Linked DNA regions of Homo sapiens. The protein of the gene in region 4 purifies or fractionates together with the protein of the main gene of each other region. This does not show direct contact. Each region holds a gene or a part of one and is shown on either strand. Other genes may lie near its edges. The genes, in order: PPA1, CGN, RIMS1, NAV1 and PPA2.

Region 1 (4,081 bases), on a different chromosome or scaffold from region 4:
ATTATCCACATTATTCTCCCAATTCGGCTGTTTTTAGAAATAAAGCCCCCCTGAAAAGGACTTTGACCTTGAAGATAAGAGAATATGCTTTAAAAATATTTTAATCAATGATAGTTCTACTGTAATTGGCTTATAGCCTTAAACTGACTACTATAAAATAGATGATATATTCAGGGAGTAAATTCCCAGATGTGCAGTTTAAAAACACAATGAAAAAACAAACCATACTTTGCCAACCCATTTTGCACACTGGAGTTAAATATGCCATAGGTTATTTAATTAAACTTGAGCTTTAATTATTCAGAATACTATTTTTTTTCACGGAATAGAACTTTAACTGCAGTTTTTCAGTTTTTAGCCTCTACAAAGGGCACAGATGAAGCTAAATCTGCAATTACTGTTTTCTGTCACCCAGGCTGGAGTGCAGTGGCACAATCTTGGCTCACTGCAACCTCTGCCTCCTGAGTTCAAGTGATTCTACTGTCTCAGCCTCCTGAGTAGCTGGGATAACACAGGGGCGTGCCACTACACCTGGCTAATTTTTGTATTTTTAGTAGAGATGGAGTTTCGCCATGTTGGCCAGGCTGGTCTCAAACTCCTGACCTCAGGTGATCCACCCGCCTCAGCCTCCCAAAGTGCTGGGATTACAGGTGTAAGCCACCGCACCTGGCCTGCAATTATGCTTATAAAAAGTACTTTTTTTTTTTTTTTTTGAGACAAGGTCTCACTCTGCCACCTAGGCTGGAGTGCAGTGGTATGAGCTTGACTCACTGAAGCCTCAACCACCCTGGCTCAAGCAATCTTCCCATCTCAGCCTCCTGAGTAGCTGGAGCTACAGATGCATGCCACCACATCCAGCTAATTGTGTGTGTGTGTATATGTATATATGTGTGTGTGTGTGCGTGTATGTGCATATATATATAATTTTTATATATATTATATAATTTTATATATATAAATTATATATGTATTATATATAATTTTTATGTATAATATATATATAATTATATATATAATATATATAATTATATATTATATATAATTTATATATATATTATATATAATTTATATATATATAATATATATAATTTATATATATATTATATATAATTTATATATATATAATATATATAATTTATATATATATAATATATATAATTTATATATATAATATATATAATTTATATATATATAATATATATAATTTATATATATATAATATATATAATTTATATATATATAATATATATAATTTTTATATATATTATATATATAATTTTTATATATATTATATATATAATTCTTATATATATAATATATACTTTATATATACTATATATATAATTTATATATAATATATATAATTTTTATATATACTATATATATAATTTATATATAATATATATAATTTTTATATATATACTATATATATAATTTATATATATAACATATATATAATTTATATATATAATATATATATAAATTATATATATATATAATTTATATATATATATATATATTTTTTTTTTTTTTTTTTTGTAGAGATGGAGCTTTGCCATGTTACCCCAGACTGGTAAAGTACATTTTAAGAACTTAACTTAAAATGAAAATCACTTGGTTACACCACTCTTTAGAATTACTTCTTTGCTACTTTCCATCAAAAAACGGGAACTGATAAGCCACAAGGGAATAAGTCAAAGGTTTCAAGTCAATAATTACCTGCTGCTACCAAGCAGAAAAACTACACTGATTTTGATTCAAAAGTGTAGAACTTCTGTCATTTTAAGTTCCTGCTGAAACCATGGGAGACTAAAGCATCCATAGGTTTCTGCTCCAAGCCTCCTGATACCTCACTTACCCAATACAACATAAAAACCAAAAGAATGGAGATATTACTTAAATCTAGGACTGAAGAAACTGCTCTATCCCTGTTTCCCTCTAAAATAACCAGATGGTTTAGAAAATGTAACACTAATTATTAATCCTGGGTAGAAAACCTCAGAACCAATCTTTGACTAAATTTCACCTTGTCCACTAGGTTTTCAAGTATTTTGTCCACTTCTCAGGTGTAAAAACGAGAGATCTGTAGGTCTGTGAAAAGAACAAGTCAGGGCTTTCGGTTTCCAGCAGCAGTACCCTAAAGATTCACAAGATGGAGCTGTTACGACATGAAAGATCAACTGAAGAGCTCGCCAAGATTAGCTGTTAATTTCGTTAAAACACCACCAAATGAATACATTGCTTCAAGAAAGATATAGCAGATAGAGCTAAAATAACTAATTCAAAGTTTAGAAACTATATTGAACACTTTAATAGCAGTAAATGACAAATATGTATAGATCCTCAAAACAGTATTACCTAATAACATAAATCTACATAATTAATGGGAAGGAAAAAAATAACAAGGAAGAAAACATCCTTCAGAAAATGGTAAGAGAATTCTGCTGCGAACAAAAGCTTGAAGGTCTGGTGCTTTTTAGAAATTAGCTGGGTGAGGCCGGGGGGTGGTGGCTCACACCTGTAATCATAGCACTTTGGGAGGCCGAGGTGGGCGGATTATGAGGTCAGGAGATCGAGACCATCCTGGCTAACACAGTGAAAAACCGTGTCTACTAAAAATACAAAAAAATTAGCTGGGCGTGGTGGCAGGTGCCTGTAGTCCCAGCTACTCGGGAGGCTGAGGCAGGAGAATGGCGTGAACCTGGGAGGCGGAGGTTGCAGTGAACTGAGATCACACCACTGCACTCCAGCCTGGGCCACAGAGCAAGACTCCGTCTCAAAAAAAAAAAAAAAAAAAAAAAAGAAATTAGCTGGGCGAAAAACAACAAGGAGTACCTGCAAAAGCCAGAGTCAATTCATTGATTTTTTTCAACAAATATTTGTTGTGAACCACCAGGATGTGCCAGGCACTTTTCTAGGCTCCGAAGACTAGCAATGAACAAAATAAAAGTTCTTTTAACTCCCAAAGAGTTGGATTTCCAAATCAGGTACTTCCTGCTGGTAGCATTGGTGGTTCAGGGGTAGAATTCTCGCCTGCTAAATCAGGTACTTCCAGTTTGTAGGCCTCAGGCTACAGCTTGGGGTGAGTGACTCATCTGTAAAATCAATGTTTAGCACACTTTTTTTTTATTATTATACTTTAAGTTTTAGGGTATATGTGCACAAAGTGCAGGTTTGTTACATATGTATACATGTGCCATGTTGCATGTTGGTGTGCTGCACCCATTAACTCATCATTTAGCATTAGGTATATCTCCTAATACTATCCTTTCCCCCTCCCCCCACCCCACAACAGGCCCCGGTGTGTGATGTTCCCCTTCCTGTGTCCACGTGTTCTCATTGTTCAATTCCCACCTATGAGTGAGAAATGCGGTGTTTGGTTTTTTGTCCTTGCAACAGTTTGCTGAGAATGATGGTTTCCAGCTTCATCCATGTCCCTACAAAGGACATGAACTCATCATTTTTTATGCATGGAATACTAGCACACTTTCAAATGCATGTAGATGCTGTAGTAATACTTGTCTCAGCCAGGCGTGGCGACTAACGTCTATAATCCTAGCACTTTGGGAGGCAGAGGCAGGAGGACCGCTTGAGGCCAAGAGTTCAAGACCAACCTGACCAACATAGCAAGACCCTGTCTCTTAAAAAACATTTTTTTAAAGAGAGAGAGAGAGAGAGACGGGGTCTCACTCTGTCATCCAGACTGGAGTACAGTGACGCAATCATAGCTCACTGCAGCCTCCAACTCCTGGTCTCAAGCAATCCTCCTGCCTCAGCCTCCTAAGTAGCTGGGCCTACAGGTGTGCACCACCACACCTGGCTAATTGTTTTTTAATTATGTTTTTGGAGATGAAGTCACACTATGTTGAGCAGGCTGGTCTCTAATTCCTAGCCTCAAGTGATCCTCCTGCCTATGCATCCCTAGTAGCTGGGACTACAGGTGCAAGCCATCCTGCCCAGCTCTGTACTTGTAAGGAGGGGGTGTTCCACATACTTTAGCAGGAATTACTACTAAAGAACAACCTTCTTCTAGACATCTGGCTACAATTCAAAGAGTTGCTACTAGGTGAACAACAGTGAT
Region 2 (4,081 bases), about 50 Mb from region 4:
TTTTTTTGAGACGGAGTCTCACTCTGTCACCCAGGGTGGAATGCAGTGGCGTGATCTCGGCTCACTGCAAGCTCCGCCTCCTGGGTTCACGCCGTTCTCCTGCCTCAGCCTCCCGAGTTGCTGGGACTACAGGCGCCCACCACCACGCCCGGCTAATTTTTTTTGTATTTTTACAAAAAAAATACACGTACTCAGTGTTTCACCGTGAAACATGGTTTCACCGTGTTAACCAGGTTGGTCTTGATCTCCTGACCTTGTGATCCGCCCTCCTTGGCCTCCCAAAGTGCCGGGATTACAGGCGTGAGCCACCGCACCCAGCCTCACACTGTATTTTTTTTAAACAACCAGCCTTACTAGCCATACCTTCATGTACTCTCCCTTCATGGTATTTTTTTTTTTATGGAGTTATATTTTACATGCTATAAAAGTCATCTTTGTGTACAATCCAATGGGTTTTTTTTTTCTTTTTGAGATGGAGTCTTACTCTGCTACCCAAGCTGGAGTGCAGTGGCACAATCTCGGCTCACTGCAACCTCTGCCTTCTGGTTCAAGCCATTCTCCTGCCTCAGCTTCCCAAGCAGCTGGGATTACAGGCACACACCACCACGCCCGGCTAATTTTTGTATTTTTGGTAGAGACAGGGTTTCACCATGTTGTCCAGGCTGGTTTTGAACTCCTGACCTCAGGTGATCCACCCGCCTCAGCCTCCCAAACTGCAGGCATGAGCCACTGGCGCCTGGCCCCCAGTGGTTTTTATTATATTAACAAAGTTGTACAACCATCATCACTATTTAATTACAGAACATTTTCATTACCCCCTCAAAGGCGCCAAACCCATTAGCAATAATTCCCCCCACCCAATGGCAACCACTAATCTACTTTTTGTCTCTGGATTTACCTATTCTGGATATTTAATATAATTGAATCCTATAATATATGGGCCTTAAGGGTCTGGCTTCTTTCACCTAGCATAGTGTTTTCAAGGTTTGTCCATGTGGTAGCAAGTATGAGTACTTCATTCCTTTTTATGGCTGAATAACATTCCACTCTGTGGGTATACCGTGTTTAGTCCAGTCATCAATTCGTGGACATCTGGGTTGTGTATCCATCTGGGCTATAATGAATAATGCTACTATGAACATTCGCGTATAAGTTTTTTTGTGAACACATATTTTCGGTTCTCTTGGGTTACCTAAGAGTGGAATTGCTGGTGATATAAATGGTAAATCTGTGTTTAACTTTTTGAGAAACTGCCAAACTACTTTCCAAAGTGGCCACATCAGTTTTTATTCCCTTGGCAGTGTATGAGAGTTTCAGCTTCTCCACATTCAGGTATCTTAGTCTGGCTCTGGGTGCCCCATCACCATTCCCGTTTCCTTCCAGGAGCTGCTCCGGACACAGGAGGAGCTTAAGGAACTGCAGGCAGAACGGCAGAGCCAGGAGGTGGCTGGGCGACACCGGGACCGGGAGTTGGAGAAGCAGCTGGCGGTCCTGAGGGTCGAGGCTGATCGAGGTCGGGAGCTGGAAGAACAGAACCTCCAGCTACAAAAGACCCTCCAGCAACTGCGACAGGACTGTGAAGAGGCTTCCAAGGCAAGGGGAGTGGGCACAGGGCTTAGGAGGTGGAGGCTGAGGGTGTCTGGAGGGCTGAGGAGCCAGAGGGTGTGGAAAGTTACCTGTCATGGGTATGTACTGACCAGCTCCTGGGTCCTAGGCATGTGGTTCAAAGAAGCCAGGATTTGGCAGGGGGAGGATACCTGTATCTGTGTAGGGGTGGGATTCTCAGAGAAGCGTCTGGCTGGTGGCAGCTGCTCTCTTTAAGCCTCATTCTTATGGGCTGTCTTTGGGATGGCTTTCCTGGGTGTGGTCAATGGCCCCAAGCCCTGGGGTCTGAGCTGCCACGCCCTGGGGTCTGAGCTGCCACCCCCTGAACCGTCCTTAGGCTAAGATGGTGGCCGAGGCAGAGGCAACAGTGCTGGGGCAGCGGCGGGCCGCAGTGGAGACGACGCTTCGGGAGACCCAGGAGGAAAATGACGAATTCCGCCGGCGCATCCTGGGTTTGGAGCAGCAGCTGAAGGAGACTCGAGGTCTGGTGGATGGTGGGGAAGCGGTGGAGGCACGACTACGGGACAAGCTGCAGCGGCTGGAGGTCAGTGGTTCTGCCCTCCCAGCCCTCTCTGCTCAGCCCTGGTGAAATACTCCTATGCTAAGTAGTTAGCCATCAGTTTCACTTTGCCCTTAGTGTGCATCTGTTTTGCCTCCCCAAACCTGCTCTGTTAACCTTGGGTTTATTTCCTGGTGTATACTTTGGCGCCAATGTTCAGTCTTTGCACTGGTAGTTTTGTTTCTTATTTCTCACCCTTTGCTTGCTCTATGTGTCCTGATTTCTTTGCTAGGAGCCTGTTTTCATTGCACATCATTTTCATAAATACCTCCTTTCTCCTGCCCAGCTACCCACCTCCAAATGACTTGAACCCAAGTTTTACCTTTTCTCAGTCCAACCCTGCTTCCCTACCTCCCAGGCAGAGAAACAGCAGCTGGAGGAGGCCCTGAATGCGTCCCAGGAAGAGGAGGGGAGTCTGGCAGCAGCCAAGCGGGCACTGGAGGCACGCCTAGAGGAGGCTCAGCGGGGGCTGGCCCGCCTGGGGCAGGAGCAGCAGACACTGAACCGGGCCCTGGAGGAGGAAGGGAAGCAGCGGGAGGTGCTCCGGCGAGGCAAGGCTGAGCTGGAGGAGCAGAAGCGTTTGCTGGACAGGACTGTGGACCGACTGAACAAGGAGGTGGGGCATGGGGTATTCTGGGCCTTTAGGAAGAGGCCCAGCTCATCCAGAAGCTGGCCTGAGAGGACAGGGGCTTGGGGGAGAGGGGTTAGTCAGAATGTGTGATGATTATGGCCAGGTGCGGTGACTCACTCCTGTAATTCCAGCACTTTGAGAGGCTGAGGTAGGCAGATACCCGAGGTCAGGAGTTTGAGACCAGCCTGGCCAACATAGCAAAACTCTGTCTCTACTAAAAATACAAAAAATTAGCCGGGCTTGGTGGCTCATGCCTGTAGTCCCAGCTACTCAGGAGGGTGATGCAGGAGAGTCACTTGCACCCGGAAGGTGGAGGTTGCAGTGAGGCGAGATCATGCCACTGCACTTCAGCCTGGGTGACAGAGCAAGACTCTGTCTTAAGAAAAAAAAAAAAAGAATGTGTGATGTTTGCTTTCCTCAAGTTCATTGTTAGGAAGACCAAGACCAAATCTTCTGGAAGGGGCATCCTTCCTACCTCCCCTCCATGTTTTTGCTCTTTCCCTTACATCCTATTCCTTTATGGTCTTCATTCTTGGAGAACATCTCCTGGGATTCTCCCTTGGGAGTCTACAAAACCTAAATACAAGAATCTTCAATGGCCAGCTTGGGCAACATAATAAGACTCTGTCTCTACTTAAAAATAAAATTAGCCTGCTGTGGTGGCTTGTTCCTCAGTTTCTCTTTATAGATGGGGAATTGAGACCCAGAGAAGATAAGTAACTTGCCTATGGTTGCTAATTAGTGGTAGAGCCAGGATTTGAACCCAGACATCTGTATTCCCAGCTACTCGGAAGGCTGACGTAGGATTGCTTGAGCCCAGGAGGTTGAGGCTGCAGTGAGCTGTGACTGCCCCACTGCGCTACAGCAAGAGCCTGTCAAAAAAAAAAATCTTCATTGGTAGAATTTTAAATTTGGGTGAGGGGAAGGAGAAAAGAAAGAAAAAAGAAAAGGAAATAAATTGCTTTTGCTGCTAAGGTTCTCCTCCCAATCTTTTTGTAAAGCAAGAGCAAACACGTAATATGTTACATCAATTCTAAAGTGCACATTTTATCATTTGTCAATGAAAAATGCACATCTTATCATTTGTCAATGAAAAATGCACATCTTATCATTTGTCAATGAAAAATGCACATCTTATCATTTGTCAATGAAAAATGCACATTTTATCATTTCTGAAATAGAGTTGTGTCTTATACCTTATGGTATGTTATAGTTTAATTGGCATATTTTTCTTAGTGGTACGCCGTATAATCATTGGCACCTTGGGTTTGCTGAAATGGTCATTT
Region 3 (4,081 bases), on a different chromosome or scaffold from region 4:
GGAGAATAGGACCCCATGAGAACGCCAACATCTGAGATTCAAGAGAAGATAAAATAGAAGCATTTAGAAACATTGAAGGCAAATCAAAAGGATATGGAATTATAGAAGCAAGGGCAAGAGGGAGCTTCAAAAGATTCTTCACCTCTTATCATAACCACCACTCAATTTGCACTATTTTGTGTTCTTGAGTATTTAGTCTTTTCCCAAAGTGCGTATGTCATATTTTTTTTAATTTGCACAACCTTACTAGCAAAAGTATCTGCTTCTTGTGGCCTGGTACCATGTTTATTTCTCTTCTATTGCATGTGGACCTCCTATAGCCTTTAACTATGCTGCATTTATGGAAGTCAGGGACTAGATAGCCCCTGGACTGATTATCCATCATAGTTGTACCCAATAGTGACTGTTAAAGCTTAGGCTTTTGGAGCTCTAAATACCATAAAATCCCTTTCTAATGCTTGTGTCTGGCATGATACTTAGACCATAATATCTTTTTCAGACTAGCATCAAGTTTTTACTTCAGGTTGCTATATATTAGGTGGCTAGATTTGACCTAGGGTATGCAGACAGCTGTAAATTGAAATATCCATTCTCAATATAAGAAGACTTTACTGTATTTTATTTTTCAAAATTACACTTTTATGAAAACTGTCACAATCATGAATAATATAAAATTAGAATCTCTTTAGGATTTTGGATCTTACTAAAATTTCAATATCTAAAATAAATGAGACTGTTCATTTCAATATCCCTTTATTCCAGATACTAGGATGTAAAATGTCTTCATTTTTTCCCAGAAACAAAGGGGTTAGGAAAGAAGGCTTAAGCTCCAATATATTGCAATACAGAGATAGCCAAGGAAGATAAATCTGCTAAGCTGTGTGAAATATAAAAGGAAAAGCCATTTGGTTACTTTACTTTTGTTTTCATCTCTTTCTACCAATACGCTAAGTAATCTTTCTGACCTGGATAGAACCTCTAAATGTGGATATATACTACCATATAGTTAAAGAAACCCAATACATTGATTTTTACATACCCTAGGTACTTCATATACAATCTGCCTATTTTTTCCAGAATAAAAACCACATAAATTGAAAACAAAACAGCTAGCAGCTAGACATCCTATCAAAGAGTTTCTTTCTTTCCTTCTTTTTTTTTTTTTTTTTTTTTTTTGAGAGGGAGTCTTGCTCTATCACCCAGGCTGGAGTGCAGAGGCACAATCTCAGCTTACTGCAACCTCCGCCTCCCGGGTTCAAGAAATTCTCCTGCCTCAGCCTCCCAAGTAGCTGGGATTACAGGCATGCATCACCACGCCGGCTAATTTTTTTATTTTTAGTAGAGATGGGGTTTCGCCATATTGGCCAGTCTGGTCTCAAACTCCTGACCTCAGGTGATACGCCCTTCTCAGCCTCCCAAAGTGCTGGGATTGCAGGCGTGAGCCACCGCACCCGGCCTCAAAGAGTTTCTTGTTACATTGGTTAAAAGCTGTGTTTAAACAACAAAAACAATAATATGGCACACAATGCTTGTGCACCAATAACTTACAACTTTAAAATATATTCTTGAGATTAAAAATAGTCTTCAAATATTAAGCAATACTGCTTTAAGTACAGAAAGCCATATGTAGGTATGTAAATTGTGAACTAATCAAATGGACGATGTAAAGTCCAGCAAATACAGCAAGAAAACTCCATCAAGATTACTACATTAGTTTCCACTTGTGAGTGTGTATATTATGCATGAGAGTCCATTAAAAGAAGCTAAGTAGTGTAAGACTTTTATATGACAGTACAGATATCTTAATTGGTTTTCAATTTACATACCTTCTCTATGTAAATATACTATCATCTTCCAGATGATAATTAAATTACCTGGCATAATGATGGGTAATACAAACAAATACTAAATAATGTATAAATCATTAGCATGGTATTATTTTCTATATTACACAAAATATCTTTCATTCATTATGCTTTAAAATAGCTAATATTATAATTAAGTGCATTGATTACTTACATATTGCATGAAATTACTTTCTATAACATTACCTTATTTTACTATCTAAACATCAGAGGAATTATCAAAATATTACAAATAACATGCAATTACTTTCTGTAACATTACCTCATTTTGCCATCTAAACTCAGAGGAATATCAAAATATTACATCCCAAAATCTATTTAAATAAATTCTCACACATTAAAGATGTCTTTGGTAAACTGCAGGCTGCTCTTTGCAAGGCTCAAAGGAGAATTCTCATAAAGACAGTCCTGTATGAAGTCGCAATTCATAACTACTATTATTTGAAAAATGTTTTGAAATTTTAAATTCAGCTTTGCCATAAAAAGCATCATTCTGTTGAGATTCCATAAAAGAGAATACCTTATTTCCTTTTTTTTTTCAGACAGAGTCTCACTCTGTTGCCCAGGCTGGACTGCAGTGGCAGGATCTCAGCTCATTGCAGCCTCTGCCTCCTGGTTTCAAGCGATTCTTCTGCTTCAGCCTCCTGGGTACCTGGGATTACAGGTGCACTCCACCATACCAGGTTAATTTTTTGTATTTTTAGTAGAGACGGGGTTTTACCATGTTGGCCAGGCTGGTCTCAAACTCCTGAGCTCAAGTGATCCACCCGCTTTGGCCTCCCAAAGTGTTGGGATTACGGGAGTGAGCCACCACGCCTGGCTGATAATACCTCATTCTCAGAAAAAGTGTTCTCCATTTACCAAACAATGATCAAGATTTTATATCTACCACTTGCTTGCATTACTTATTGTTGAGATATATTTTAACACTGTTAATTGCTTGATTTTCTGAAGTTATAAATGAAGAATTTGGGGAAGAGAAAGCAAGATTTAAAAAGAGGAAGACAATATAATTTGTCATCCGGGTTGAAACTCAAAATTGAGAGAAGGGGTTACCATACATAATAATAGCAGGAAATTGGTATAAACAGATAAAGGAAAATCAACATGTACAGTCACCTTCCTTTTAAACAGCTCTATTTTGCCTTTAAGTAAGCATTCGTATGAACAGGAAGTTTTCACAATATTGCAACAGAAGCAGAAACATCTAAAATCAATTCTGCAGAATAACCCCCTCTTGCTGTCCACAGAAAAGTAATCTAGTCAAAATAAGTGTATATAAACTCGATGTAAGAATGTGAGAATATAAATACAGAAAACCTAAGGCATCCAATAAAGAATCTTAAAAAGTTCTTAAACACATGCAATTTATTACATCACTCAATGGTAAACTGACATGAAAGAAAACTACCTGACAAATATACATGACCCCTTATTCAGCTAATTCTGAAAATGAAGAATTTATTAAACCCAGTGACACTAAAATTATTACTGTATTTCTCCAAATTTTTTTCTGTAAAAGATGAGGAAATTACCCCAAGCTAATTTCTCTTCTCATTTTTGAATTAGGATTGCCTTTTAGATCTTTCAAACTTTATCACTTTGCCCACATTGCTTTTTGTGCTAAAAACATGTACGAGCTATTTAATGAGAGGGGAAAAAAAAAAAGAAAAGAAAGAAGGTAAATATAGTCTCAGACCAAGCCCTGAACTCATTTTACCTTTTAACTCCTTGTCAAATTCTCACACTGGGAGCTGCAACCCTGGCAACACTGCATTGCTAGCATGAAAGGATAGGTGGGCTCTTCTCCAAGAGCTCATCTTCCCAAGCCCCCTAGTACCTTCAAAGACTACTGGAAAATATAATCTTGGTGTTCTACAGTTTTAACAAATAAGCATAATAATGGCACCTTTCTTGGAAACAGCAATTTGGAGGATATGATGACTCCACTATCATTTTAAAGCTTCACAGATTAGAAGGACTGCCATTATAAATTCCACTTTACATATAAAATCTGATGCTTGGATGGATTATCTTGACAATGTTCACACCTATAAAAAGTCATAATGTTAAGACCAGAATCTAGTCCAGTGTTCTATCCAACTATCCAGCACTCACCTCTTTTTCTGACTACGGCAGTTTTAAAATGATAGGAACTCAGCCAACATTGGGCTGTAAGCAGAGGATTCGCCTTTATTCTACCCCAGCAGCCTAAT
Region 4 (3,252 bases):
CCTAACTTCCACCCAAAAGCACACATACCTTTCTTTGTTAAAATCATAAATGGAAAAACAGAAACACAAGGAAGCATGAGAAAGGTGACTTTGAAATTAATGTTAAAGTCTGAATGACAACCTAGAACCTTCTTATTTTGGGCCCCAAAGCCTCTCAGTGTGGGAACTCCAATACTATAAAGGGCTTTCCCTTTAAAACAGTTGAATTTAGTGTGCATCAGAATCACCAGGAGGGCTTATTAAAACGTGGATTGCCGGGTCCTCTCATTAGAGTTTCTGATTCAGCAGATCTGGGATGGGATTGAGAATTTTCGTTTCTAACAAGTTCCCAAAGGCTGCTGATGCTGCTGGTCTTGTGCCATACTTTGCGAACCACTGCTTTAAGGAATGAGAAACCAGGGGATCACTCACTTACTTCCATGACCACCCTTGTCACAGAAAATTCTCCATGGTATAATCATGAAGAAGAATGACCAAACCATCAAACTGGAAGGATCTAGTATACACAGGTTGAATTTTCAACCGTCTTCGTGTCCCTGCAGCTTTGGCATTTTGATAGGTATCCTCCCTTCAAGGCTACATCTTCTGGGTTACTACCACCTTTCCCAGGATCTGTGGCCGGCAGTGCTCACTTCCAGGGCTAGGCTGAGCAGACATGCACCCATGCACCCTGGTGGCCCCATATATCCGTAGTCAGGTTGATTCAGGACTTATTAAAATATAAGGCTGATTGGATTATAAGGGGCAATATCTTCAGGCTTTGGCCTTTGGGGAACAGTGTTCATAAGATCATTTTATTACTATGGCCTTCTCAGTGGAGCCATGAGCCAGAACTTGTGAGTAGTATATCCATCTCTATTAATAAACCCTCTGCAAAAGCCCATTTTTCCATCCCATCACAGGGGTTGGCTTATGAAGTCGGCTTCTTAACTTTAGCTTAGTCAGTGCCAAGGAATAAGGAAAGCAAAAATAAAGTATGATGAGGAACTGCGCTTGGTGATCTGGGTCACTTCAGCACTTATTCCCTGTGTTAAATGTGTGATTAGGACAATTCCCCCGCCCTCTCCAAATAATGGCAATAAAGAGTTCTTAAGGTCTCATGCAGATATCTTCTTGACCTTGATTTGGAGGACTGAGTCCCCTTCAGTCAGGCAAATTTTACCTAAATGCAGGGTTTCTATGTGGATGCCATCCCAAGTGAGGATGTGAGGTGTCTGTGAGAAGCAGCAGGCTACCATTTCTCTCTTCCTACTCTTTTAGAATACTTTAGGAAATAGTTACTCCTCAGACCACTGTAAGGGGTTATCCCTCTGAGTAGTGTGACCCTTGTTTCAGAGAGCTAGAAGTGAAGAGATGGTGAGATTAGGTACACTTAGTCTTGCAAACCAGGAAAACCAGAAGGCAAGACATTAAGAGAGAAAAAGAAGCCCTCTATTTTGTCTTTAGTACTTAAGGAATATGGATAGATCAGTTGGAAAGTTGGCAATTCAAGACTAAAACAGTATACCAACCAATGAACATTTCATTGTAGGGTCTTCCCATGGACTTGTAGCAGATTTGTCTTCCCTGCCAGCCTCTACCTTCCCAATGGTTAGACATGAAAAAGACATGGGTACTTAAGGATTGACACAAAGACAGAGATAAGCACCGTAGAGCTGCCACAAAGCATAGATTTTAAAAAATACTTTGAAGCCTCAGAAGGTAGGAAACAGCAACAGCAAACTGCTCTTGTGTGTGTGAGAGAGGGAGACACACACACACACACACACACACACACACGCAGACATCAGGTCCCACATTAGCCTCCAATGACCTAGTATTTTATTTTTAGTGCCTAGGCAAGGTCTGAGAAACAAATACATTGGACAAAACTTGTTGGTCTTCTTCATCCAGAAATTAAGGGACTCAGCTCAGGAACCTCTCCTGGAGTTGTGGCTCTCCCCATTGGTTGACATTAGATATTGAATTCATGTCATTTCCTAGACAACTGTGGTGAGGGATGGAGTTGGGGGGCTGGAGAGGAAGATAATAGCACAAATTCCAGTATTAGGCTGGATTCTTCTGAAGGTGCCTGGCGGTTGAGAATTTAGCTATGGGACCCAGTGTTTCTTTTCTGAAGGATCCCAGTAGTCTCAACCAAGAAGCAGGACGTAGGTGGGAGAGAATGCTGTAGATTTGCTCCTTGCCATAAATTCTAGGGCAGTGAGTGGGGAGCTCAGGTTTTCTGCTTCAGAGAAGTCTGGATGAGTGTCCCAAGGGGTTATAGCACCATGAGGAGGCTCAGCCTTCTGCAGTTGCCATATAACTGTGATTCCTTCATGAGAATGATCAATCCCCACAGTGAGGGGCCCAGATGTGCAACTGTAAACAGGGTCCCAGGCTCCAGAGGGAAAGCCGAGGCTTCAATACTACCTCACTAGACGGGAACACACTTTCTGGAGGAAAGCAATTGGAGACCTGGCCTAAATGCAGCAGTCAGCTGAGAGTAGAGGGTGGTGGATCCCAGGAAGAGAAATAAAAAGTCATAGCATGAGGCCTCCAGAATCAACCTGCTGAGGATCCAAATAAAATTCATGGTGGTATCCATGGTTACCAGAGAGCCAAGAATCCCTTTGGGGTCGGAGGCAGTTGGAATGAAAGAAGGGGTTCTCCCCTCTCCTTTTTCTCAAGTAGCCAGTAACATCCATGGCAGAAGGCACTGGCTGGGCAGCACCAGAAAATAGAGTGAAGCGCTCAACCATCAGATTAAGATGGCATTAAAAGTCTGAGCCTTGCCATGGAACTGGAGCTTAGGATAGGGTTTAGAAGAGGCCTAGATCCCAAGCAGGCCCATCCAGTCTTCTCTTCCTTCTAAGTTAGAACAGCCAGCTCGGGGGCCTCCTCATTCTGCACAGCAGAGACCTTAAGGCAGTGATTTCAGCACCATCCTTGGACACACAGCCTCTTCCCACCACAGAATTGCATATGTTACAGCTGAGTTGGTTAGGGATCTTCACAGCTCATGGAATTAGCAGCAATAGCAATAATAGTCTCCATCATACAGAACCCTGTCATCCATGGGAGCTTACCACGTGGATGCAGAAGCTTTTGTGAGGGGCAGCCCGGACCATCTTTTGGACTTAATATACCGATATGAAGATTCAGATGCATCTACTCCTCGGTTGGGTGGAAGAGTGATCCAGGTTGGTATGCCTATAGATTCTGATAAAGTCTTGTGCTACTTAGGAATCTGAAGAGCAAACACTTAGGCCG
Region 5 (4,754 bases), on a different chromosome or scaffold from region 4:
CCTCTTAGGCTCAAACCATCCTCCTATCTCAGCCTCCCAAGTGGCTGGAACTACAGGCGTGTGCCACCCCGCCTGGCCGATTTTTGTACTTTTTATGGAGATGGGTTTTACCATGTTGCCCAGACTGCTGGTCTCAAACTCCTGGGATCAAGTGATCCTCCCACCTTGGCCTCCCAAAGTGCTAGAATTACAAGCATGAGCCACCACGCCCAGCCTGGATACTTTAAGTATCCACAGATCATTAGAAATTAGCCTACAACCCTGCCTCCATAGGAATTTGTCTTATTTAAATATCTAATCTTCAAAAGTTAATAGAAAAATTAAGCTTTTTTTCAACATAAACAAAAAAATTATACAACTCTGTGATATATGCACAGAAGAGATTTTCTCTCCTTTTTATGGGAGCATTTGCCTTATAGTTATGCCTATTCAAGTTGACACATTACAAAGGTACCACTGTTGACAAAAACATTTTAGGATCTATAATCTTAGTAGAGTGTCTCTAAGTAGCTAGTCACAATATCTCCTAGGAATCCTTTCTGGAACTTGGGTAGACCAGTATCTCAATTTTAATGATCACACGATAATTGGAGATGCTGAAAGAACCTGGGTGCCCAGTAGGAAAGTAGCCTAGATGATGATAGTCCCAAAGAAGATGGACTAGAAAAAAATAAAATGACACGTGGCAGACTACTGGTTGTTCTACAATATCCATTCTCCTGGATACTGGCCCAAACCATCCTCCTATCTCAGCCTCCCAAGTAGCTGGAACTACAGGCGTGTGTGCCACCCCGCCTGGCCGATGCGCGGTGGCTCACGCCTGTAATCCCAGGACTTTGGGAGGCCAACGCAGGCGGATCAATGGAGGTCGGGAGTTCGAGACCAGTCTGACCAACATGGGGAAACTGTCTCTACTAAAAATACAAAAATTAGCTAGGCGTCGTGACGCATGCCTGTAATCCCAGTTACTCAGGAGGCTAAGGCAGGAGAATAGCTTGAACCCAGGAGGCGGAGGTTGCAGTGAGCCGAGATTGTACCATTGCATTCCAGCCCAGGCAACAGTGTGAGACTCCGTCTCAAAAACAAAACAACAACAAAAAATAATAAAATAAAAGAAAGAATAAATAATCTCTACTGGGTTAGGAAATGGCCTTATGGAGAAGATGGCATTTGAGTAAGCTACTTAGGGTTTTTTGCTCTGTAAGTCGGTGTCAACGTCCCGTTTTCACGTGGTGGCCTGATCATTTTGTCTTATAGTGATGTCTTTGCGTGCATGTGCGCTCATCTCCTATATTGGACAGGGTCTAGAGCAGTTCCTGGCACAGAGTAATCACTCAATATTACATCACTATACTAAAAAATCATGATAGTAATTCTTGACGGGATAAATGAAGGCATGAATAAATGTATGAATTAACGAGTGGCAGTGAGCTCTTCAGGGGTGGTGGGTCTTGTCTCACTCGTCTTTGAGCTGCGGCCTCGCTGAGGGCATAGTGCGCACAACTGGCTGGTGTTCCAGATTCCACTGGCAGGGACCAGGATCGCAGCCCGAGCGCCGGGGCGGGAGGGATGACTCCGGACGGTAGGGGGCACCGGCGTGCGGCCCGGCCGAGCCCCCAGGTAGCTCCGCGCGCACAGCAGGACCGTCATTGACGCCATGAGCGCGCTGCTGCGGCTGCTGCGCACGGGTGCCCCAGCCGCTGCGTGCCTGCGGTTGGGGACCAGTGCAGGGACCGGGTCGCGCCGTGCTATGGCCCTGTACCACACTGAGGAGCGCGGCCAGCCCTGCTCGCAGAATTACCGCCTCTTCTTTAGTAAGTAGCTCCCGGAGGTTCGCCGAGCGGCGCACCGGAGAAACCTGGGTGGGGGATGGAATGGGGGACACTTGGGACGCCCCGCGCGGTCTCCCTTCTCTCTTTTTGGGGCCCTCAGCGGTAGCCGCGCGGTCCAGGCCACCTTACTTCCCGCGGGAGCGCGCACCGAGTCACGAGAACTGCCAGCGAGGAGGCGGCGGATCAAGACCCCAAAGCGGAGAGCAGAGGCGCAGGGCTGCCGGCTGGGGGGTAGATAGCGCCCTGTGCCCTGCCAGCCGCCCTCCCCGAGGGGTAGGCAGAGTGCAAGCGGCCACCCCGCGGCGGCCTGCAGCCATTAGCCGGCCCGGCCGCCGTTCCCGGTTCACACAACTCAGTGAGGAAGGGAAGGCAGAGCCCGCCCACACGCCGGCCTTCCTAGAGGCGTAAGAAACCTCCTACTGCGGGAGCTCCCTGACGTCGGAGAGGCAGGCGGAACTTTGCGGATGCCTAATCCAGCGCGTCTTCTTTTTTTGGAGGGACTCTGATGAAGGTTCTTTCCCCAGAAGCTTGACTTGGTACGCACAAGTTTACACCCTGAGTGTGATCCACCATCCAAAGCCTCGTTGGTTCCGGAGCAGCCCCTTTTCCTCCCCAAGCTGAACAAGCCCAGAAGGCTAAGCGACTTCGGGGGGGTCCCTGAGTTGCCGAGCTCAGAGAAAGGACCCAGGTCTTCGTGACTCATTGTTCCGTGTACCCCATTGTTTCACTGTGTACGTTAACCGTAACAGAAAATAGCGATGTCGGTCGCTTGCCTTCACTCCCCACTGACTGCAGAGCCTTGGAGTGGTAGTATCAAAGTGGGCCTTGCATTATCGCTCCCCTTTTCGGAGCACTGGCTCTGGAGGCTTTCAGTTCTAAGCAGGCCCTCGAGTTCTTCACGTCTTAACTCTGTGACCCCGGACGAGTTTAAGTTGCTAAGCCTTGTTTTTTCTCATCCGTAAAATAGGGCTGCAAGTATTACATGACATTATATATGTAAACTGATTAGTCACAGGGCCTAAAATATAAATTACTATTGTTAATACCGATAATCATTATAGATATTTGTAATTTATGAGAGATTTGCAGTTATGCTACATGAGTTTAGGGTCGAGGATTATTTTGTGGGAAAGAAGAGTTTGCCTAAAGTCGTGTGATTATAATGCAACTAGTACTAGAATTTCTATTTTCTTCAAAATTGGTTGCAGTTTTCACCCTATGCCACATATTTTCTTCTATCTTTGGTTAAGACTGATCAGGTGAACAGGAAGTCTCAAATTTCTGAATGGATTATGTTCTAAAAGGTTACCATGTGATGATTAATGGGAATAGTCAGAAAAAATTATGAAGTGGCAGTTCGCTTTTTAAGCAGATTGAAAAAAGGCCTGTCTACTGCAAGTATTCTAGATTTGCAATAAGTACGGTAATTAATAGATACCCAAATAATAAATATTTATGAAGTGTGCTAGACACTGTTAGGCATAGTACAGAGATTCACAATATTACTATAATTATGGAAAAAGTAAATACACTGGTTGAGCAAAAACAGGCTTGAGAAGCCAGGAGCGCACAGAGTAGTTGACCCAGTACCGGATTTGGAATGGGGAGTCCTAGGCCATAATCTTGGCTCTGCCGTTAACTCGCTGTGTGCTGTTGGGTGGGTGGTTACTTCAGTTCTTTCTCACAGAGCCAGTTTCTTCAGCTGTAAAATGAAGCTTTTGACCTTGAAACGATGATCCTCAAGGTCCTTCTCAGCACTGGTATTCCCTGAAGGCATTGGATGAATAACGGAGATTCTAACAGTCTCTGTTAAGACAGGATGTCGAATGGGGGCATTTTTGGGAGTATGTTGGCCTCTTATTGTTGGTTTGTTTCTTTAGCTGCAAATGTACTTAGGACTCATGATTTTTCTGTAACTAGAGTGCCACAAATAAAATACGTTTTTCATTCAGTTGGATAAACAGGGCAGGAAAGAAGAAAACCCGATTTTACTAAGGTAAATGGGCAAAAACTGGAAGAAAGGGGAGTGTGGTTTTGGAGAGGGTCCCGATGGTAAGATCCTGATTGGAAGGTGTGTTGGTTAAACAATTTCTGAACTAACCGCCAGATGGCATCACTGGCCAGGACTGTTTACTACCTGCTAGAAGGGGTAGGGCAAAGTGAAACGAAGCCACTCTAGGGCGAATGGGGTAAGGGGAAAGCAACGAATAAATTGCCCTTTATAAAGATGATCACAGATTGGATATTTATTACTCAGTGTGTCTGTATGCAGTACTAGGGTGGACTAATGTCTCACTTCAAAAAAAATATGAGTGTAGTATACTTGGCCTAAAATTGTTACTCAGTGTTACTAAAGTGTAATCATTTTCCACATCTCCAAATATATTCCAAGTCTCTGAAATACTAGTGCATTGGGAGGTAGAACATTTTCGAGCTTCATGTCTGTAAATGGTTTCTCTTTACTGTCATTCAGTAAAATCAGAATAAATGATTGATGTAATACTTAAAAAAAAATTGGTGTTAAACTTTGTAGAAAGAGTGAGACAGGATGATTAGGGGAAAGGGTATCCTGATGGGAATCATCAGGCCTCCTTGGTGCCAGCCCTGACCCTGTTAGTATCTTGCTGTCACTTCACCTCCCTGCATCTCATTTTTTAAAACCATGGAATGAGGAGATTGGACCAGATGATCATTTTCCAGACTGCTTAGTTGAACACAAGCATCCCATGGTATATTATTAGGTTTTCGTTAAAACAGAGGGTTTCATGGTTTAATAAATTAGAACACTTCCCATTTTATTACTTTTTTGAAGAAGAATTTGCCTATTTAAGTTCTGGAAAATTCGGATGTAACTTCTCCAAAAACTGAACCACAGAGTACTTATTTCTCAGAACATTTGTTAACATCTTAGTGACATCAGGG

The links.
Region 1: the proteins of NAV1 (region 4) and PPA1 fractionate together in Homo sapiens (co-fractionation; one large-scale study listed by BioGRID). This does not show direct contact.
Region 2: the proteins of NAV1 (region 4) and CGN purify together in Homo sapiens (affinity purification with mass spectrometry, with the first as the bait; one large-scale study listed by BioGRID). This does not show direct contact.
Region 3: the proteins of NAV1 (region 4) and RIMS1 purify together in Homo sapiens (co-immunoprecipitation; one large-scale study listed by IntAct). This does not show direct contact.
Region 5: the proteins of NAV1 (region 4) and PPA2 fractionate together in Homo sapiens (co-fractionation; one large-scale study listed by BioGRID). This does not show direct contact.

The regions. Positions count from the first base shown.
Region 1 is NC_000010.11:70,219,558-70,223,638, forward strand, and holds part of PPA1 (inorganic pyrophosphatase), read right to left. Parts: intron 1-4,081.
Region 2 is NC_000001.11:151,527,967-151,532,047, forward strand, and holds part of CGN (cingulin), read left to right. Parts: intron 1-1,383; coding exon 1,384-1,593; exon of another isoform or gene 1,594-1,598; intron 1,599-1,942; coding exon 1,943-2,149; intron 2,150-2,522; coding exon 2,523-2,780; intron 2,781-4,081. UniProt on the Homo sapiens protein: Probably plays a role in the formation and regulation of the tight junction (TJ) paracellular permeability barrier.
Region 3 is NC_000006.12:71,892,769-71,896,849, reverse strand, and holds part of RIMS1 (regulating synaptic membrane exocytosis protein 1), read right to left. Parts: intron 1-4,081. UniProt on the Homo sapiens protein: Rab effector involved in exocytosis. May act as scaffold protein that regulates neurotransmitter release at the active zone.
Region 4 is NC_000001.11:201,821,891-201,825,142, reverse strand, and holds part of NAV1 (neuron navigator 1), read right to left. Parts: 3' UTR 1-3,252. UniProt on the Homo sapiens protein: May be involved in neuronal migration.
Region 5 is NC_000004.12:105,470,954-105,475,707, reverse strand, and holds the start of PPA2 (inorganic pyrophosphatase 2, mitochondrial isoform 1 precursor), read left to right. Parts: upstream 1-1,645; 5' UTR 1,646-1,657; coding exon 1,658-1,814; intron 1,815-4,754.